3 separate regions of the Homo sapiens genome follow, and regions 1 and 2 are each linked to region 3. The links come from fine-mapping of genetic effects on gene expression. A gene starts in region 3. Each other region holds a variant in brackets. All regions are shown on one strand. Distances are between the middles of the regions.

Evidence for each region.
Region 1: its variant is fine-mapped to the expression of NAPSA in whole blood (TOPMed, PIP above 0.99).
Region 2: its variant is fine-mapped to the expression of NAPSA in whole blood (TOPMed, PIP above 0.99).

What each region holds. Positions count from the first base shown.
Region 1 is chr19:50,339,515-50,346,953 of GRCh38, reverse strand. All of the region lies in intron 2 of LOC105372437 (a long non-coding RNA gene), which reads right to left. It also overlaps the pseudogene NAPSB. Among named protein-coding and RNA genes, the nearest start is that of KCNC3, 14 kb to the right of the region's middle. RefSeq lists enhancers at 2,266-2,315, 4,146-4,385. The variant AT/T (reference allele first, on the strand shown) is at 3,827.
Region 2 is chr19:50,421,299-50,428,737 of GRCh38, reverse strand. It overlaps SPIB (Spi-B transcription factor), which reads right to left. Exons shown (of 6, transcript NM_003121.5): 3 at 6,193-6,265; 4 at 5,701-5,915; 5 at 4,983-5,133; 6 at 1-700. The coding sequence ends at 402. Among named protein-coding and RNA genes, the nearest start is that of SPIB, 6.1 kb to the right of the region's middle. RefSeq lists enhancers at 90-379, 1-507, 508-1,081. The variant C/G (reference allele first, on the strand shown) is at 4,021.
Region 3 is chr19:50,362,007-50,369,445 of GRCh38, reverse strand. It overlaps NAPSA (napsin A aspartic peptidase), which reads left to right and starts at 3,807. Exons shown (of 9, transcript NM_004851.3): 1 at 3,807-3,907; 2 at 7,133-7,274; 3 at 7,354-7,439. The coding sequence starts at 3,825. The region is part of intron 3 of LOC105372437 (a long non-coding RNA gene); the gene reads right to left. RefSeq lists enhancers at 604-663, 3,457-3,606.

The sequences.
Region 1 (7,439 bases), 22 kb after region 3:
ATATTCTTCAAGCATGAAGGAGAAATAAAGACTCTCCCAGAACAAACAAAGCTGAGGAATTTCATCAACACCGGATCTGTCCTACAAGAAATGCTAAAGGGAGTACTTCAGTCAGAAAGAAAAGCATGTTAATGAGTGATAAAAAATCATCTGGGCCAGACGCGGTGGCTCACGTGTGTAATCCCAGCACTTTGGAAGGCAGAGACATGTGGATCACGAGGTCAGGAGATCGAGACCATCCTGGCTAACACGGTGAAACCCCGTCTCTACTAAAAATACAAAAAAATTAGCCGGATGTGGTGGTGGGTGCCTGTAGTCCCAGCTACTCGGGAGGCTGAGGCAGGAAAATGGCATGAACCCGGGAGGTGGAGCTTGCAGTGAGCTGAGATCGCACCACTGCACTCCAGCCTGGGTGACAGAGCAAGACTCCGTCTCAAAAAAAAAAAAAAAAATCATCTGAAGGTACAAAACTCACTGCTAATAGTAAGCACACAGAAAAACATGGTGTATTGTAACAGTATAACTATGGTGTGTGAACAACTCTTAAGTAGAAAAACTAAAGGATGAACCAATCAAAAATAATAACTACAACAACGCTTCAAGACATAGACAGTACAATAAGATATAAATACAAACAACAAAAAGTTAAAAAGTTGGGGACAAAGTGAAGGTGTAGAGTTTTTACTAATTTTCTTATTGTTTGTTGGTTTGTTGGTTTGTTTATGCAAACAGTGTTAAGTTTATGTTGTCAGCTTAAAATAATGGGTTATAAGATAGTATTTATGGCAGGGCACAGTGGCTTACGCCTGTAACCCCAGCACTTTGGGAGGCCAAGGCAGGCGGATCATGAGGTCAGGAGATCGAGGCCATCCTGGCTAACACGGTGAAACCTCGTCTCTACTAAATATACAAAAAAAAAAAAAAAAAAATAGCCAGGTGTGGTGGCAGGCACCTGTAGTCCCAGCTACCCTGGAGGCTGAGGCAGGAGAATGGCGTCAACCCAGGAGGCAGAGCTTGCAGTGAGCCGAGATCGAGCCACTGCACTCCAGCTTGGGTAACAGAGCGAGATTCCATCTCAAAAAAAAAAAAAAAAAAAGACAATATTTGCAAGCCTCATGGTAACCTCAAATCAAAAAACATACAACAGATACAAAAAAAAAAGCAAAAAATTAAATCATATGACCAAGGAAAATTATCTTCTCTAAAAGGAAAACAGAGGCCAGGTGTGGTGGCTCACATGTGTAATCCCAGCACTCTGGGAGGCTGAGGCGGGTGGATCACCTGAAGTCAGGAGTTTGAGATCAGTATGGCCAACATCATGAAACCAAATCTCTATTAAAAATACATAAATTAGCCAGGTGCAGTGGCACGCGCCTGTAGTCCCAGCTACTCGGGAGGCTGAGGCGAGAATCGCTTGAATCCAGGAGGCAGAGGTTGCAGTGAGCCGAGATTGCACCACGGCACTCCAGCCTGGGCGACAATGAGATTCTGTCTCAAAAATAAATGAATAAATAAATAAATAAATAACATGAAAGAAGGACAGAAAGAAGAGAATACTACAAAACAACCAGAAAACAAGTAACAAAATGTCAGGAGGACGTCCTTATCAAGAACAACATTGAATGTAAATGGACTAAACTCTCGAATAAAAAGATATAGAACGGATGAATGGATGAAAAAGAAGACCCAATGTTTTGTTGCTTACAAGAAACATACTTCACCTACAAATAAGAGTCTGGGTCCTCAGACGCAGGCAGTCCCACTTCATATGGGAGGGCAGGCTTATAATCAGTTCCTCTCTCCCTTCCCCAGGCCCTTCACAGACACCTGCTGGTCCCTCCCACTTGGCCAAGGAAACACTGTGGTTAATGAGTCTCAGAAAAGTGATGTGAAAGTGAGAAGTAAAAGTGACAGAGGCTAAAGGATGGGGGGTGGGAGGCAGTCCCAGCAGAGGACACCCCACGACCACCACCCCCCAAGTAGGGAATGAGGAGCACTAAGGACACAGGATACAACTTTTGTTGACACTACACAAATACTCTGCACAAATCTTCAAAAACATCCTTGTCCCCCTGTGTCACCTGCTGAGAGACCTCGTGTTCTGGTCACCTCCTAAACCGGGAGGTGGGGCATAAACAGGGTGGAGTCACAGGGGAAAGAAAACTAGGAAGCCTGGGTTCACACCCGGCTCCCCAGCAATGTCTCCACCACTGCTGCTGCTACCCTTGCTGCTGCTGCTGCCTCTGCTGAATGTGGAGCCTGCTGGGGCCACACTGATCCGGTATGGTGACCCCATTTGCCACCCCCAAACCTGGGAGGGATTCTCTGCTTTTTGCCCTTTAAGTCTGGGGCTCCTGGTTCAGTGATTCCCAAACCTGGCACCCAGGATCCTTGACTCTTCTTTCTTGGCTTTCCAGATCTCTAAAGTGGGCTCTCACCCCGAGGGCTCTACTCTGACATCTCCTAAGATCAGAGCTCCCTTTTATTTATTTATTTTTTTTGAGACAGAGTTTCACTCTTGTTGCCCAGGCTGGAGTGCAATGGCACGATCTTGGCTCACCACAACCTCCACCTCCTGGGTTCAAGCGATTCTCCTGCCTCAGCCTCCCAAGTAGCTGGGATTACAGGCATGTGCCACACCACCCCGGCTAATTTTGTATTTTTAGTAGAGATGGGGTTTCTCCATGTTGATCAGGCTGGTCTTGAACTCCCGACCTTAGGTGATCTGCCCACCTCAGCCTCCCAAAGTGCTGGGATTACAGGCGTGAGCCACCACGTCTGGCTCAGAGCTCCTTTTTTAAAATAATTTTTTTCTTTTTATTTATTTATTTGTTGAGATTGGGTCTTGCTGTGTCACCCAGGCTGGAGTGCAGTAGTGCGATCATGGCTCACTGCAGCCTCAAACTCGTGGTCTTAAGCCATTCTTCCACCTCAGCCTCCCAAGTAGCTGGGACTACAGGCATGTGTCACCATGCCCAGCTAATTTTTGAAATTTTTTGTAAAGAAGAGGGTATCCCTATGTTTTGCAGGCTGGTCTCCATGTCCTGGGCTCGAGCAATCCTCTCACCTCAGCTTCCCAAAGTGCTGGAATTACAGACGTGAACTACCATGTCCAGCCCAGAGCCCTTTTAAGTCCCAGATCCTCCAACACTGAGACTCTTTTTTTGTTTTTTTTGTTTTTTTTTTTTTTTGAAACGGAGTCTCACTCTGTTGCCAGGCTGGAGTGCAGTGGCGTGGTCTCGGCTCACTGCAACCTCCGCCTCCTGGGTTCAAGCGATTCTCCTGCCTCAGCTTCCCAAGTAGCTGGGATTACAGGCACGCACCACCATGCCTGGCTAATTTTTGTATTTTTAGTAGAGATGGGGTTTCACCATGTTGGCCAGGCTGGTCTTGAACTCCTGAACTCGCGATCTGTCCGCCTCGGCCTCCCAAAGTGCTGGGATTACAGGCGCGAGCCACCACACCCGGCCTTCACTAAGACTCTTGAGTGAGGAACCCTCCCCTTCTTCTCTGGATATGTTTTTTTGGAGGCCTCTGCAGATCCCACTCCAAGCTCTGATGACCAGTTATGGGGGTCTCCAGACATGTGACACATTCCCGCCATCTTGGAGACCAAGGCATGTGACATTTAAACTAAGACTCCCCCACATTCACACCCTCCAAATTGTTTAGGCCTCAAGAAGTCTATTTTTTTGTCTGAGCACAATGGCTCACCACTGTCAACTCAGCACTTTGGGAGGCCAAGGTAGGAGAACTGCTTGAGGCTAGGAGTTCAAGACTAGCTTGGGCAACATAGTGAGACCCCCAGTCTCTACAGAAAAAAAAA[AT/T]CAGCCAGGCACGGTGACAGGTGCCTGTAGTCTTAGCTACTTGGGAGGCTGAGGTGGGAGGACCATTTGAACCCAGGGTTTTGAGGCTGCAGTGAGCTATGATTGAGCTACTGTACTCTAGCCTGGGCGACAAGGGAGGTCCTGTCTCAAAAAAAAAAGAAGTCCAGTTTTGGGGACCCCACCCAAGAAGTTCTCCCCTACCTTACCTCTGATGCTTCCCCAATTTCTCCCTTCCCCTCTTCTCTTCTCTTCTCCTTACCCCTTGGGGCTCTTCGCAGGGGGAGGGGTGTATTTTCCGGAAAGTGTTTTCCCCACTTCTCGTTCTTGTGCCTTTCAAAGACTGAGTCATGAGGGGTGAGGGCAAAGGTGTGAGTGAGGGTGTCATGCTCCAAGGAGTGACTAAAATTGGGTACAAAAATATTACTGCAGGCTGGGCGTGGTGCCTTATGCCTGTAATCCCAGCTCTTTGGGAGGCCGAGGCAGGTAGATCACAAGGTCAGGAGATCGAGACCATCCTGGCTAACATGGTGAAACCCCAACTCTACTAAAAATACAAAAAAATTAGTCGGGCGTGGTGGTGGGCGCCTGTAGTCCCAGGTACTCAGGAGGCTGAGGCAGGAGAATGGCGTGAACCTGGGAGGCGGAGCTTGCAGTGAGCCAAGATCATGGCACTGCACTCCAGTCTGGGCAACAGAGCGAGACTCCATCTCAAAAAAAAAAAAAAAAAAAATTACTGCATGAGGCCAGCCATGGTGGCTCACACCTGTAATCCTAGCACTATGGAAGGCAGAGGCCTGGAGGATTGCTTGAGGCCAAGAGTTCAAGACCAACCTGGCCAACATAGTGAGACCCCATCTCTTTCTACAAAAAAATCATTAAATATAAAATTTATTTTAAAAATTACTGCACATTATGTTTGTTAACCAGCTTTTTTTTAAGATTTTCTTTTTTTGTAGAGATGGGGGGTCTCACTATGTTTCCTAGACTGGTCATGAACTCCTGGCCTCAAGTAATCCTCCCACCTCAGTAAGATCTTTGAATAAGTAAGGATTTACAATCTGAAATTCTCCCAGGACTCTGAGAGTATAGATGTTGCTGGTGTAAGGTTCAATGAATTCATCATTCCCTATTCATCTGCTTTGCAAACCTAATATATCACGGACATTTTCCAAGTCAATGCAAAGAACAGTGAGTCTCAGAATGTTGTCTCAAAACCAATAGCATTAGCATGGCCCAGGACCTTGTTAGAAATGCAAATTCTCAAGCCCCATCCCAGATCTACTTAAAAATTAAGAGATCTGAATTTGAACCAGCCCTCTGAGTCTGGGCTTGGCAAACACTGAGCCTGAGGGTCAAACCCTGCGTGCTATTTCCCTTTTACAAATAAGCTAAAGGGAATCTAGGCCAGATGTAGTGGCTCATGCCTGTAACCCCAACACTTTGCAGGGCCGAGGCAGAATTGCTTGGGGCCAAGAATTTGAGACCAGCCTGGGCAACTTAGCAAGAACTTATCTCTACAAAAAATGAAAAAAAAATTAGCTAGGATGTGGTGGCATATGCCTGATTCCAGCTACTTGGCAGGCTGAGACAAGATGACCTTTGAGCCTAGGAGTTTGAGACTGCAGTGAGCCACAATCGTGTCATTGCTCTCCAGCCTGGGCAACAGAGTGAGACCCTGTCTCTAACAAAACTGGAGTCAGCATGCGCATTCATTTCCATAGCATCTGTTGTCTGCAGTTGCTTTCATGCTATCTGGACAGATTTGAATAGTTACCACAGAGACTGTCTGGCCTGCAAAGCCTCTACACAAAGATTTGCCCAACACCACTGCTGTAGGTGATTTTGGGTCATGCTAAATAAAGTTTGAGAATGACTGGTATAGACAGCTACTTCCTCCTTCTTAGAGGTCAAATGGGGTTCCATTCTATGTATGTTCCAAAGCAGAACTAAGCTGTACCCATTGTTGGCCACTGTAACCGCCTAGCTGGTTCTTTCTGCCTGCTGCCCAGATACAGCCAATTTATCAAGATAGGAAAGCGGCAATAGAGAAAGAGTTTAATTTATGCCGAGCCACTGGCTGAGCAGGAGACCAGAGTTTTATTATTACTCAAATCAGAGGTGGGCATGGCAGCTCACGCCTATAATCCCAGCACTTTGGGAGGCCGAGGCGGGTGGATCACCTGAGGTTAGGAGTTCAAGACCAGCCTGGCCAACATGATGAAACCCCGTCTCTACTACAAATAGAAAAACTAGCTGAGTATGGTGGTTGGTGCCTGTAATCCCAGCTACTTAGGAGGCTGAGGGAGGAGAATCACTTGAACCCAGGGGGTGGAGGTTGCAGTGAGCTGAGATCATGCCAATGTACTCCAGCCTGGGTGACAGAGTGAGACTCCATCTCATAAAAAAACAAAATGAAAACAACAAATTAGCCTCCCCTAACATTTGGAGGCCAGGGTTTTTCAAGGATAGTTTGTCAGGCCTGGGAATGGGTGCTGCTGATTGGTCAAGGATGTAATCATTCATAGGGGCCTGGAAAATAGTCTGCTTCTGGGTGGAGCCACAGGACTGGTTGGCAGGTCTGGGTGGCATCACCAGAAATGCAAAAACCCTTAGTCTCAAAAGGCCAATCAGGTTCTACAGTAGTGATGTAATCTGCAGGAGTAATTGGGGAAGCTGCAAATATTTTGACCTCTGGAATAATGACTGGTAATCATTTATGTCTGCACCTTAGCAGAATTCATGCTCCTCTCATCCTCCTATCCTGGTGGTACTTCATTAGCTTTACAAAGGTGGTTTAGTTTTGGGGATGGACTATTACCATTTAAACTATAAACTGTCTCCCAAAGTTAGCTTGGCCTAAGCCCAGGAATGACCAAAGGCAGTTTGGAAGTTAAAGGCAAGGTAGCGGTTGTTTAGATCAGATCTCTTTCACTGTCCTAATTTTCTCACTTATAGTTTTTGCAAAGGCAGTTCATCATTGGACTGTCTCCAGTTTCCAAAATTAGGCACAGCCTCATAAACCCACCTCTGTGCACTCATCCAGTGATCTCCTATAGATGAAATTCTGGGTTGTGTTAAATGGTGGGTACAATTTTCGAGCATTTGATACACATTTGCAAACCTAATCAACAATAAGTATTCTCAGTTCTTTGCCAATCTGTATGGTGAAACAAGGTTTCTCACTGTTGTCATTTGTATTTTTTTGATGACTGTTGATGACATCTTTCCATGTATTTAGAATTTATTTGTACTTCTTTTGCAATTTTATGTCCTTTGTCCATTTTCCTAATGAGCGTCAAGAACTATGAAGTTAGTTTGCCATAGTTTCATGGCTGCTCATAGAAGACCCAAGACTCCCAAGTCAGAGACAAAGGGCAGTTTATTACTCCCAGCAATAGTAGTAGCAAGAGTATTAGTACGTGTGCCAGTTTTTTCTTTCTTTTTTCTTTTTTTGTTTCTTTTTTGAGACAGGGTCTTGTTCTGTTGCTCAGGCTGGAGTGCAGTGGCATGATTATAGCTCACTGTAACCTTGAATTCCTGGGCCTCCCAAGTAGCTAGGACTACAGGCATGTGCTACCAGACCTGGCTTTCTTATTTTTTGTAGAGACAGGG
Region 2 (7,439 bases), 59 kb before region 3:
GGGTTTACAGACACACAGCGATCTTAAAAACGTCCCAGGCCTCACTGGGGAATCAGATATCACAAGAAAATCCCAGAGAAGCTCTTGGGATTCTGGAAGAACTGCTACCCTGCCTCCCCGAGTATAGTGGTCCATAGGTCCTGTCACCCAAAACATGAGGATCCCAGGGAGTCTGTACATGACAAAGAAATCCCAGAGGACCCCAGGCACAAGTGGGGAATCCCAGACAGGCCCGGGCTGGGCTTGGGGATTATGGCAGGGCAGCACTCCCCTTACCCCAAAAGGTGGGGATGCGTAAGTCCTATCACCTAGAGTGTGGGGACGCCCTTTTTCTTCCAGGGGGATCCTGGCTGGGACGTGAGGTCCCCCAGCGGCTCCGCAGGTGGGAGCCTCGGGTGTGCTCAGGCCCGGCGGACTGCAGGCAGCAGCGCGCTGTCGAACTGGTAGGTGAGCTTGCGCTTGACCTTGCGGATCTCGCCGGTCTTGGCGTAGTTTCGGAGGGCGCGCGCCAGCTTCTGGTAGGTCATGCGCTTGCGGTTCCCCTTCTGCTGGCCCCAGCGGCGCGCCAGGAGTTCCTTGTGCTTGGAGGAGAACTGGAAGACGCCGGCGCCTGGCTCCACCCACCACACGCACTCACGCATGTCCCCGCGCGTCAGTAGCCCCAGCAGGAACTGGTACAGGCGCAGCTTCTTGCGAGTCCCTGCGGTGGGGTCGGGGGCACGCGTTAGGTGAGGGGTCCCTAAGGCCCCGCCTTCCCCATCCACCCTCCTCCGAGACTTCCACCCCGGCCTCCATCTCCTGGATCTGAAAAGTGGGGTGAGGGAAGTGGCTGTTACATACACCTGGCTCTGCGCCCCTCACCACGGGGGGGGGGGGGGGCAAGCCACTCCCCCTGCCCGAAGCTGTCAGCCCCAGGCCCCCTCCGCGTTCTGTGCTTTAATTTTCGAGATTTACATCTGTCCTGCCTTCCGCCCTGCGGCCAGCACGTAATATTCCATATTTGTTGAGCTAGTGGATGAAAGAATCTGTGAAATGGGTTGACAGCGCCGCTTAAAGGATTATAACGGAGAGGCGAACAGATCTGGAGGCAGTTGCATTGGCCTGGCTATCTCTCCAGCTCCTGGTCTCCCAGCCTCTCAGCCCAAAGCGGGACAGGGTCCCGGGAGAGGCCAGGGCACCTGACTCCTGGGCTCCTAGGGTTTAGTTTGTTTTTGAGACGGGGTCTTGCTCTGCGGCCCAGGCTGGAGTGCAATGGCGCAATCTCGGCTTACTGCAGCCTCTGCCTCCTGGGTTCGAGCAATTCTGCTGCCTCAGCCTCCCGAGTACCTGGGACTACAGACGTCTGCCACCATGCCCGGCTTATTTTTATATTTTTAGTAGAGACGGGGTTTCGCCATGTTGGCCAGGCTGGTCTCGAACTCCTGGCCTCAGGTGATCCGCCCACCTCGACCTCCCAAAGTGCTGGGATTACAGGCATGAGCCACTGCGCCCGGCCAATAACTGGGAGTTTCAAAGCAGGGCACTGGCTACAAGAATCCCATCTCTGCCATTTTACAGCAGTGTGACCTTGGGGTGGTGACGTAGTGACATCTTAATTTCTTTTTTTTCAAGGCAGGGTCTCGTTCTGTCACCCAGGATGGAGTGCAGAGGAGCAATCACAGCTCACTGCAGCCTCGACCTCCTGGGCCTAAGCAATCCTCCTGCCCCAGCCTCCCCAGTAGCTGGGACTACAAGTATGCACCATCATGCCTAGCTAATTGTTTTATTTTTTGTAGAGATGGTGTCTTACTATGTTGCCCAGGCTGGTCTTGAACTCCTGGCCTCAGGTGATCCTCCCACCTCGGCCTCCCAAAATGCTGGGATTACAGGTGTGAGCCACTGCACCCGGATTGAATTCTTATAATTTTAGGCTGCCTCGGCATTCATCGAAAGTATAAGTTGGAGGCTGGGCGCGGTGGGCCATGCCTGTGATCCCAGCACTTTGGGAGGCCAAGGTGGGCAGATCACTTGAGGTCAGGAGTTCGAGACAAGCCTGGCCAACATGATGAAACCCGGTTTCTACTAAAAATACAAAAATTAGCTGGGTGTGCTTGGCTCATGCCTGTAATCCCAGCTACTTGGGAGGCTGAGGCAGGAGAATCACTTTAGCCCAGGAGGCAGAGGTTGCAGTGAGCTGAAATCATATCATTGCACTCAGCCTGGGCAACAAGAGCGAAACTCCCTCTCAAAATAAAATAAAATAAAACTAAATAAAAGTTGGACATTCTCATGCTGGAAGCAGGGCTGTCCTCCTTGGCAGTTCTACATCTCCCTCCCCGAGTTCCTCAGTGTGGCTGACCCAGATATCTCTCTTATGCAACTGACTCCTGGTGACCACCTCCCTGTGGGAGAGCCATGGACAGCCTACTTGACGGCCCTGCATGGACTGTGCAGATGCCTCAGTGACCCCCTCTCAGGCACAGCGTGACCTCCTGGAACTTGATCCTGCTTGCTTTCAACCCACCAAGTATTTATTTATTTATTTATTTTGAGCTGGAGTCTTGCTCTGTTGCCCAGGCTGGAGTGCAGTGGCATGATCTCAGCTCACTGCAAACTCTGCCTCCTGGATTCAAGCGATTCTCCTGCCTCAGCCTCCCAAGTAGCTGGGATTACAGGCGTGCACCACCAGGCCCAGCTAATTTTTGTATTTTTAGTAGAGACGGGGTTTCACCATGTTGGCTAGGCTGGTCTTGAACTCCTGACGTTAGGTGATCTACCAGCCTCAGCCTCCCAAAGTGCTGGGATTATAGGCATGAGCCACTGTGCCTGGCCTGAACCCACCAATTAAAACCCCCTCAGGAAACCTGTTTGGCCGACGCCTTGGACCCAATAAAGGCGTCAGTCCACTGGTCCCTCTCTCTCTCCCTCCCTGCCTGCGCTCCCTGACCTGGTGTGTGTGGCCTCCAGGCGTGCCATGTATGCCCCAGGACCTATAAGCCATAAAATAATTTATTTCTGGCTGGGTGTGGTGGCTCATGCCTGTAACTTCAGCACTTTGGGAGGCTGAGGTGGGAGGAGCACATAGGCTCAGGAGTTGGGAGTTCAGCCTGGGCAACATAGCGAGACCTCACCTCTACAAAAATTTTAAAAATTAGTCAGGTGTGGTGGTGTACGCCTGTGGTCCTAGCTACTCAGGAGGCTGAGGCAGGAGGATCGATTGAGCCCAGGAGTTTGAGGCAGTAGTGAGCCGAGATTGCGCCACTGCGCTTCAGCCTGGGTGACAGATGGAGACCGTCTCAAATAAATGAATAAAAATAAATAAAATCTTTATTTCCATCTTGTGTCTTTCCTAGTCATTGGAGAGATCCTCTCCATCTTAAATGTCCTAAGTTAAAATAGGTGACTTAATTAACCTCTCTGAGCTGAAGTCTCTCAGCCACAAATGAGGCTGTGTGGCTGGGCACAGTGGCTCACGCCTGTAATCCCAGCACTTTGTGAGGCCGAGACGGGCGGATCACCTGAGGTCAGGAGTTTGAGACCAGCCTGGCCAGATGGTGAAACCCCATCTCTACTAAAAATACAAAAAATAGCTGGGTATGGTGTGGGTGCCTGTGATCCCAGCTACTGCGGAGGCTGAGGCAGGAGGATTGCTTGAACCCAGAAGGTGGAGGTTGCAGTGGGCCGAGATCGTGCCACTGCACTCCAGCCTGGGTAACAGAGCGAGACTCTGTCTCAAAAAATAAATTAATTAATTAATTAAAATTTTTTAAATGAGGCTGTGGTTTTGTTTGTTTGTTTTTGAGACGGAGTCTTGCTCTGTCACCCAGGCTGGAGTCCAGTGGTGCAATCTCAGCTCACTGCAACCTTTGCCTCCTGGGTTCCAGCAACTCTCCTGCCTCAGCCTCCTGAGTAGCTGGGATTACAGGCATGTACCACCATGCCCCATTAATTTTTTTTTCTTTCTTTTTTCTTTTTTTTTAAGACAGAGTCTTACTCTGTCGCCAGGCTGGACTGCAGTGGCAAGATCTCGGCTTACTGCAA[C/G]CTCTGCCTCCTGGGTTCAAGCGATTCTTCTGCCTCAGCCTCCCGAGTAGCTGGGACTACAGGTGCACACCACCACGCCTAGCTAATTTTTGTATTTTTAGTAAATGTGAGGTTTCACCATGTTGGCCAGGATGGTCTCGATCTCTTGACCTCGTGATCCATCCTCCTCAGCCTCTCAAAGTGCTGGGATTAAAGGCATGAGCCACCATGCCCAGCCTAATTTTTGTGTTTTTAGTAGAGACGGGGTTTTGCCATGTTGGCCAGGCTGGTCTCGAACTCCTGACCTCAGTTGATCTGACCGCCTCAGCCTCCCAAAGTGCTGGGATTACAGGCGTGAGCCACCACACCCAGCCTGTGTGTTGATTTTTACAATGCACCGTGGAGCATGTAGTGCCAGGTGCTTCACAAGGCACTTTACAGTTATGAGCTCATTGAATCTCCATCATAACCCCGTGAGATGGGGAGGATGACAGTGATGCCCACTTTACAGACGAGAAACCGAGGCCCAGACACAGAAAGGAAGGAACGATCTCAGCTTTCTTGGGGTTGAGCATAAAGGATGTTGGGCACACGGGCAGGGGGCAAGGGTTGAACCGTTGGGGGTTGATAGCATTATCATTTCTGTTGCTGTGGTGTCGGGAATGATGGTGAAGAGGTTGACTTATTGAAGTGCTCACTCTGTGCCTGGCACTGCTGTCCCATTTACACTTACTATCCCATTTAGTCCCCCCAACGACCTCAGGAGGGTAGACACTATCACCTCCATCCCCATCGCACAGACAGGAAACCTGGGCACAGAGAGGTAGAGGCACTTACCCAAGGTCACACAGCCAGCAGGTGGTGCGGATCTGGGAGCTGCCCAGAGTGCTGGAGTATATGTAGAGGCCCAGGAAGCCATGGTGCTCTCAGCCCCCCCACCATCTCCAGCTGGCATCTCCCCCACCCCAGCCACTCCCGCATACCTGCCTCGGATCCCTTCCCCTCGGGGCCAGCCACGAGGGCCTCATCCGACTCGCTGTCCGAGACCTCCAGGGCAGGGCTGTCCAACGGTAAGTCTTCCTCCTCTGATAGCACAGGGCTGGGGTACGGGGCATATGCCGGGGGAACCAGGGTCTGCGGAAGGTCAGGGTCACCTGCATGTCCAGGGACCCCTTGTCTCCCTCCACTTCCTCCTCTCAGGCCAAGGCGGTGGCCCTCCTGGCTCTGGTCTCCCTCTTTGTTGACAGCCTAGATTTTGGCCTTTGTTCAGATCACCACGCTGTGGCCAGGGGACACCTGAGGTACCTCCTCAAAGCCGGCCCAACACAGGTAATGCGAGTCTGCCCTGTCCCTGGCTTCCTGTCACTACCTCTCTTGACTCACTTGTTCAGAGGGGCAACAACGGAACGTAACCTGGGAGGCCGCTGCAGGGCTTACTATGTGCAGTCTCAATGCAGTGCCCGGCACCCAGCAAACCTCAACCAAATGACTGAGCTTGAGTTTTCTTTTCTTTTTCTTTTTTTTTTTTTTTTTTGAGACAGGGTCTTGCTCTGTTGCCCAGACTGGAGTGCAGTGGATTGCCTCGACCTTCTGGGCTCAAGCAATCCTCCTCCCACCTCAGCCTCTCAAGCAGCTGGGATTACAGGCGTGCACCACCACACCTGGTTTGGGCTTGATTTTAACTGTCCCCTTACCACTCACCTGGCTAGCGAAGTTCTCCGTGGGGTATGCAGGGAGGCCAGGCCCCGGGGCCTCCAGGCTGGGGGCCAGTTCGAGGTTCCCTGCAGGGCTGTAGGTGGGGGGTTCGTAGCAGAGCTGGGCAGCCTGGGGGTGGCTAAAAGCGGCTGCTGCCGGGTCGAAGGCTTCATAGGGGGTGGCTGGGACAGGTGGGGCCACAGTCCAGTCCCACAGGGAGTCTGGGGGAAGGGCACTGAGTCAGAAGCTGGGATGTCTCACGGAGGCCTCCTCGCAGTCGAAGCCCCCAGCACAGAGAGGCCATTGTAGGCTGTGCAAATCTCTGACCCCAGGATTTGCATGGAGGAGCGGATGGGTAGGAGAGGAAAGGGGAGGAGGGCTATAGGCCCGGGCCACCTTTATCCTGTTGTGCTAGGAAATGACCTCCCCTGGGCCTCAGCTCCCCTATCTGTGAAATGGGCCCCAAGGCAGGAAGGGCACAGGGCTGGGGTCACTCACCAGGAGCCCCCTCTGAATCAGGGTAGCTGGAATGCTTGCAGCTGTCCAGGTCATAGAAGACGCCATCTGGGTACTGATACGGGGTGCAGGAGGGAAGAGGGGTCATCCCAGGCCTTGGGGACTCCCAACCCCCACCCTGGACCCTTGGGGAGACTCCAACACAGACATGGGAGAGAAGAGGGGATGCTGGAGAGATTAGAGCAACAAAGAAACACAGAGACTAGGCATCAGAGACAGGGACAAAGAGACAGAGATACAGAGAGTAGAGACACAACCCAATAGGGGCACACAGCAGCCAGCTCCTGCTAAGACGGTGGGCTCCCAAGAACCCTGGCCCCTCACTGGCACACAGTCAGCGAATCAGGGCGCCTGGAGAAGGGGTGGAAGAACTCCCCCAGCCTTGCCTGCCTGGGGGCTCCGGAGGTGAAGGGCAAGGGGAAATGGAAGTGTTTCACTTAACAGAGGCAGGGGTCAATGCTTTTTAAATACACCTCCAGGCCAGGCGTGGTGGCTCACGCCTGTCATCCCAACACTTTGGGGGGCCGAGGCGGGCAGATCACCTGAGGTCAGGAGTTCAAGACCAGTCTAGCCAACATGGTGAAATCCCGTCTCTACTAAAAATACAAAAATTAGCTAGGCGTGGTGGCGCACGCCTGTAATCCTAGCACTTTGGGAGGCTGAGGCCAGTGAATCACCTGAGGTCAGGAGTTCGAGACCAGCCTGCACAACATGGGGAAACCCCATCTCTACTGAAAATACAAAAATTAGCTGGGCCTGGTGGCAGATGTCTGTAATCCCAGCTACTCTGGAGGCCGAGGCAGGAGAATCGCTTGAACCTGGGAGGTGGAGGTTGCAGTGAGCTGAGATCGCGCCACTGCACTCCAGCCTGGGTGACAGAGTGAGACTCTGTCTCGAAAAATAAATAGGCCGGGCATGGTGGCTCATGCCTGTAATCCCAGCACTTTGGAAGGCCAAGGCAGGCAGATCATGAGGTCAGGAGATCGATACCAGCCTGGCCAACATGGTGAAACCCCGTCTCTACTAAAAATACAAAAATTAGCCAGGCATGGTGGTGCGCACCTGTAGTCCCAGCTACTTGGGAGGCTGAGGCAGGAGAATCGCTTGAACCCAGGAGGCTGAGGTTGCAGTGAGCCGAGATCGCACCACTGTACTCCAGCCCGGCGACAGAGCAAAACTCTGTCTCAATAAATAAATAAATAAATAAATCTCCATATGTTGATTCGCCC
Region 3 (7,439 bases):
GGGTCCCCCACTCTTGGACACACAACTGGACTACATTTCCGGGTCGTCCTTGCAGCCAGGAGCAACCACGTGACAGATTCCCACCAATGGAACAGGGGCAAAAGTAATCCTGGCAAAGACGATGCGAGGCATCTGGGCTGATTACTTGGTGTCTGCAGCTTCAAGAACCAGGTTCAATTCCCCTCCAAGTGCACCTGGGCTGCCTCCTCTTAATCTTGCTGCACCGCAGCAGCCCCTCCCCAACCCGGTAAAATGTGGGCGATAATTCCTTTCTTACAAGGTTAGTAAATAAAATGACGGGTTTAAAAATCTGGCAATCCTTTACCTAATCACTTCCTGAGGGGATTCGGGAAAGATTGTGTTGGGCGATTCTGGAAACTGTGCTCCTCTGATGGTGGAGGCCCACTCGGTCACAACCCCCTGAGAGACAAGACATGGGGAGATCCAGGTCCCATTGGCCGGGCCGTGTTCGGCAGGAGATCTCCCAGTACGCTTGGGCAGGGGAGTCAGGGAGGAAGCCTGTTCTGCTCCTTTTCCCGTGGGGTGCAGAGAGCGAGCAAGTCGGCATTCCAGGCGGTGGGAACTGCTAGGGCGGAAGCAGGAAAGCTGGAGAGAGCCTGGTGTTCCAGGGGTCCAGCTCTAGAAACGGGTGGCGGCTGGGGAATCTTGGCTGGGAAAACAGGCCCACACCTCCACCTTGTGGCCAATTGGGAATTTGCAGGCACGGCCTCTCAAACTACTTAAGGGCGCTTGGGTGCAGTTGGATGGGGTGCTGCAGACGGAAAGCGTGCGGGGCGAGTTGAAGGGGCCCAGATCGAGTGCTCTGACTGAGAAAACAAAGGGGGGTGGTGACAGTTATCAGGGACACGTTCGGCTGCTTCAGGAAAATCCCCCAGAGCAAGGAGTGCACAAAGTGGATCTTTACCATTATTTATGTATTTATTTATTTCTGTTGAGACAGTGTCTCACTCTGTCACCTGGGATGGAGTGCAGTGGCGTGATGACGGCTCACTGCAGCTTCAGCCTCCTAGGCTCAAGTTATCCTCCAGCCTCACCTTCCCCAGTAGCTGGGACTACAGGAGTGTGCCATTACGCCCAGATAATTTTTACATTTTTTTTGTACAGACAGGGTCTCCCTTTGTTGCCCAGGCTGGTCTCCAACTCCCAGGCGCAAGCGATCCTCCTGCCTCAGCCTTCCAAAGGGCTGGGATGACACCCCCAGCCTCCCAAACGCACCCCCACCGCACCTAGCCTTTCTTTTGTTTCTTTTTTTTTTTTTTTTTTTTTTGAGAGGGAGTCTTGCTCTGTCGCCCAGACTGGAGTGTAGCAGCGCGATCTTGGCTCACTGCAACTTCCGCCTCCCAGGTTCAAGTGATTCTCCTGCCTCGGCCTTCCGAGTAGCTGGGATTACAGGCGCTGACCACCACGCCTGGCTAATTTTTGTATTTTTAGTAGAGACAGGGTTTCACCATGTTGGCCAGACTGGCCTCGAACTCCTGACCTCAAGTGATCCGCCTGCCTCAGCCTCCTAAAGTGCTGGGATTACAGGCATGAGTTACCGCATCCAGCCGATTTCTAAGGGTTTTGACTCCAGTCCCTGGCTCACTGACTGTATCTCTGGACCCACCTGGGACCTGAGGTAACTTGATGCCCTGAAGGGAAGGATGCAAGCATGGCTGCCTTTGGAACCTGCTAGTTTTAGAGCCCAAGGGCCTTGAGCAAACATAAGCAGTAGGCAGGTAGGTCGTGGTTACAGGAGGCCATGGGCAGGACCCAGCGCAATCCCAGTGATAGTAGGCATGGGGTGTTTGTGTCACCCCACTCCCAGCTCCAGGTAGCTCAGCAGAGAGAGAGAGACAGAGACAGAGAGAGAGAGAGAGAGAGAGAGAGAGAGAGGGAGAGAGAGAGACTGACTCTGTTTGAGAGAAAGCAAGGGAAGAGAGCAAGAGTCTCTGCCTGGTAATCCAGATAAATCTTCTGGATCTTATCTAAGACCACTAAGATAGTACCTCTATGAGTTTGCAAGAACCACAGCATTAATGGGCTTGGGGAGCCCCCTAATGCAGACATGGCTTAGATCACAACACCCAAGTACTTTTGAATACCTGGAAAGCCTCCCCAAAAAGGACAGGTACAAACAAGCCTTGTCTGCAAAGACTACAATAAATACCTAACATGGCCAGGCATGGTGGCTCATGTCTAATCCCAGCATTTTGGGAGGCTGAAGCAGGAAGATCACCTGAGGTCAGGAGTTTGAGACCAGGCTAGACAACATGGTGAAACCCTGTCTCTTCTAAAAATACAAAAATTAGCTGGGTGTAGGCTGGGTGCGGTGGCTCATGCCTGTAATCCCAGCACTTTGGGAGGCCGAGGCAGGTGGATCACCTGAGGTCAGGAGTTCGAGACCAGCCTGACCAATATGATGAAACCCTGTCTTTACTAAAAATACAAAAACTAGCTGGCATGCGCCTATAATCCCAGCTACTTGGGAGGCTGAGACAGGACAATCGCTTGAACTCAGGAGGCAGAGGTTGCAGTGAGCCAAGATGGCGCCATTACACTCCAGCCTAGGCAATAAGAGTGAAACTCCATCTCAAAAAAAAAAAAAAAATTTAGCCAGGGTGGTATCGGGTGCCTGTAGTCCCAGCTACTCGGGAGGCTGAGGCAGAATTACTTGCACCTGGGAGGCAGAGGTTGCAGTGAGCTGAGATCACACCATTGCACTGCAGCTTGGGCAACAAGAGCAAAACTCCATCTAAATAAATAAATAAATAAATAAATAAATAAATAAATAAATAACTCATCAATGCCCAGCCACCAATGAACATCTATAAGCATCAAGGCCATCCAGAATAAATGACCTTACCAAACAAATCAAATAAGCCACCAAGGACCAATCCTTGAAGAAACAGAGATATGTGACCTTTCCGACAGAGAATTTAAAATAGCTGTTTTGAGGAAACTCAAAGAAATTCAAGCTAACACACAGAAGGAATTCAGATTCCATCACATAAATTTAACAAAGAGATTGAAATAATTGAGAATCAGCTGGGTGCAGTGGCTCACGCCTGTAATCCCAGCACTTTAGGAGGCTGAGGCGGGCGGATCACCTGAGGTCGGGAGTTCTAGACCAGCCTGACCAACATGGAGAAACCCTGTCTCTACTAAAACTACAAAATTAGTGGGGCGTGGTTGCGCATGCCTGTAATCCCAGCCTGGGCAACAAGAGTGAAACTCGGTCTCAAAAAAAAAAAAACCAAAAAACAAAAACAAAAACAAACAAACAAAAAACAATACCCAATGATCTGTTGTCAACAAGAAACATACTTCACCTACAAATAAAACAGTAAGAGACTGGGTCCTGAAATGCGGGCCCACTTCATATGTGAGGGCAGGTGTCTAATCATGTCCTTTCTCCCTTCCCCCAGGCCCTTCACAGATACCTGCTGGTCTCTCCCACTTGGCCAAGGAAACACTTGTGGTTAATAAGTCTCAGAAAAGTTATGTGAAAGTTAAAAGTAAAACTGACAGCAGCTGAAGGATGGGGGGGTGGGAGGTGGTGACGGTGGAGGAGACCCCACCACCACTGCCACCCAAGTAGGGAGTGAGGAGCACCAGGAGCACAGGATGCTACTTCTGCCAACCCTACAAAAATACTCTGCACAAATCTTCAAAAAACATCCTTGTCCCACTGCGTCACCTGCGGACAGATTTCATGTCCTGGTCTCCTTCTAAACCTGGAGGTGGGGCATGAACAGGGTGGAGTCACAGGGGAAAGAAAATGAGGCCCCAGGACACCTGGGTTCACACCCAGGTCCCCAGCGATGTCTCCACCACCGCTGCTGCAACCCCTGCTGCTGCTGCTGCCTCTGCTGAATGTGGAGCCTTCCGGGGCCACACTGATCCGGTATGGTGACCCCATCTACCACCCCAACCTTAGGAGGGATTTTCTGCCTCTTGCCCTTTAAGTCTAGGACTCCCAGTTCAGTGATCCCCAAACTTGGCACCCAGGATCCCTAGAGCTTCTTTCTCAGCTTTCCAGATCTCTAAACCAGGCTGTCACCCCTAAGGGCTCCACTCTGACATCTCTTAAGACCAGATTTCTTTTTTTTGAGATGGAGTCTCACTCTGTTGCCCAGGCTGGAGTGCAATGGCATGATCTCAGCTCACTGAAACCTCTGCCTCCTGGGTTCAAGCGATTCTCCTGCCTCAGCTTCCCAAGTAGCTGGGATTACAGGCTCGCGCCACCATGCTCAGCTAATTTTTGTATTTTTAGTAGAGACGGGGTTTCACCATGTTGGCCAGGCTGGTCTGGAACCCCTGACCTCGTGATCCGCTCACCTCGGCCTCCCAAAGTGCTGGGATTACAGGCGTGAGCCACCGCGCCTGGCTGACCAGAGCCCTTTTATTATTATTATTATTATTATTATTATTTATTATTATTATTATTATTTGAGACAGAGTCTTGCTCTGTTACCCAGGCTGGAGTGCAGTGGGGCGATCTCAGCTCACTGCAACCTCTGCCTCCCGGGTTCAAGTGATTCTCCTGCCTCAGCCTCCCAAGTAGCTGGGACTACAGGCACATGCCACCACGCCCGGCTAATTTTTGTATTTTTAGTAGAGATGGGGTTTCGCCATGTTTGCCAGGCTGTCTTGAACTCCTGACCTCAAGTGATCTTTCCGCCTCAGCCTCCAAAAGTGCTGTGGTTACAGCTGTGAGCCCCCGCGTCCGGTCCCAGAGCCCTTTTAAGTCCCAGATCTTACAACACTGAGACTCTAGATTGAGGACCCCTCCCCCTCCTCTCAGGACTTTTTTTTTTTTTTTTTTTTTGAGACTGAGTCTCACTCTGTTGCCCAGGCTGGAGTGCAGTGGCGCAATCTTGGCTCACTGCAAGCTCTGTCCCCCGGGTTCACATCATTCTCCTGCCTCAGCCTCCCAAGCAGCTGGGACTACAGGCACCCGCCACCACGCCCGGCTAATTTTTTGTATTTTTAGTAGAGATGGGGTTTCACAGTGTTAGCCAGGATGGTCTCGATCTCCTGACCTCGTGATCCACCCACCTCAGCCTCGCAAAGTGCTGGGATTACAGGCGTAAGCCACCGCGCCTGGCCTTTTTTTTTTTTTTTTTTTGAGACGGAGTCTTGCCCTGTCGCCCAGGCTGGAGTGCAATGGCGCGATCTCAGCTCACTGCAACCTCCACCTCCCAGGCTGACACCATTCTCCTGCCTCTGAAAGTGCTGGGATTACAGGCGTGAGTCACCATGCCCGGCTAATTTTTTTTGTATCTTTAGTAGAGATGAGGTTTCACCATGTTGGCCAAGCTGGTCTTGAACTCCTGACTTCGTGATCTGCCTGCCTCAGCCTCCCAAAGTGCTGGGATTACAGGCGTGAGCCACTGCGCCTGGCCAGGACATGTTTTTGAGAGGTCTCTGCAGACCCTACTATGAGCTCTGATGATTAGGTACTGTGGTTTCCAGACCTGTGACACACTCCTCCCATCTTCGAGCCCCAGATATGTGACATTTAAACTGAGACTCCCCCACATCACGCCCATCAAACTGGCCTGAAGAAGTCATGTTTTTGGCCAGAGACATGGCTCACACCTGTAACCCAGCACTTTGGAAGTCCAAGGTGGGAAGCTTGTTTGAGGCCAAGAGTTTTGAGACCAGCCTGGGCAACATGGCCAGACTCCACCTCTACAAAAAATACAAAAATTAGCTCAGTGTGGTGGTGCACACCCATGGTCCCAGCTAGTTCAGGAGGGTGAGGAAGGAGGATTGCTTGAGCCCAGTAGTTCGAGGGGGCAGTGGGCTATGATCCTGCTACTGCACTCCAGGCTGGGCAACAGGGTGACACCTTGTCTAAAAAAAAAATTAATAAATAAAATAAAATAAAATAAAAAGCCAGGTGTGGTGGTGTGCCCATAGTCTCAGCTACTCCAGAGGCTGAGGTGGGAGAATCACTTGAGCCCTGGAGATCAAGGCTGCAGTGAGCCCTGACTGCACTACTGCACTCCAGCCTGGGTGACAGAGGGAGACCCTGTTTCAAATAAAAAGTTTAAAAGAAGAAAAAGAAATCCAATCTTGGGGACCCTATGCAAGAAGTCTTCCCACTACCTTACCTCTGATGTCCCCTCCCCGCCCCCATCTCTCTTTTTCTCCTCTCTTGTCTTCATTCCCTGGAACTCTTGGTAGGGGGAGGGGTGTACACTTCCAGGAAGAGTTTTCCCCACTTCACATTCTCGTGCCTCTCAAAGACTGACTCATGGGGGGTGACGGGAAAGGTGTGAGTGATGTGACAAGTGCTTCAAGGAGTGACTAAAGGCAGGAACGAAGATATTACCGCACATGGTGCTTGTTAACCTGCTTTTTGAACCTAATGTCTCATGGCCATTTTCTAAGTCAATGCAAAGAAAATGAGTCTCCAAATGTTGTATCAACAGCATCGTCATGACCTGGGAACTTGTTAGAAATCCAAATTCTCGGCTCCATCCTAGACCTACTTAATTAGCAACTAAGATACCTGAATTGTAATTGGCCCTCTAAGTCAAGGGTTGCAAACACTCAGCTTAAGGGCCAAATCCTGTTTGCCTCCTGCTTTTGCAAATACAGTTTAAAGGAACCCGGACAGGGCATAGTGGCTCTCCTCTGTAATCCCAGCACTTTAGGAGGCTGAGGCCAGGAGTTTGAGATCAGCACGGGCAACACAGCAAGACAATTAAGATTTGACGCTTACATTTTTCTCCTCAAGGGTGGGGAAAATAGTCCCTAACCTCACGAACTGAAGCATGCAGGGGCCACCACCCAAGGGCTTTTGCAAAGGTTAGGTTTTCTGTTAGGGTCTTGGGAAATCTTTAAGAATGTCAATTCCTTGGGAATAGCTTATTTTAAGGGATTTGGACATGGAAAGGTCTGTTTGGGATGGTTTGCTCTTGTAAAGTCTTTGGGGATATTTGTCATCATGGCATCTTTGATGGGCTTTTCTGGAGGTTGTTATTGCAGGGTTTCTGGTACTGACTACTATTGTAGTGCCTTGGAGATGTTGAATTTGTCATCATATCCTATTTGGGTAAGTCTATTTAGAGGTTCTCCAAGAAGGGCAGCTTCCTGTCAATATCCTCTTTCCCTACAGCATCCCTCTTCATCGAGTCCAACCTGGACGCAGGATCCTGAACCTACTGAGGGGATGGAGAGAACCAGCAGAGCTCCCCAAGTTGGGGGCCCCATCCCCTGGGGACAAGCCCATCTTCGTACCTCTCTCGAACTACAGGGATGTGAGTCACAGCCCCACACAGCCCTCACCCCTGCGCCCTTGAGCCAAACTCTTCGTTTACTCTCCTCTTTTGCTATCAGGTGCAGTATTTTGGGGAAATTGGGCTGGGAACGCCTCCACAAAACTTCACTGTTGCCTTTGACACTGGCTCCTCCAATCTCTGGGT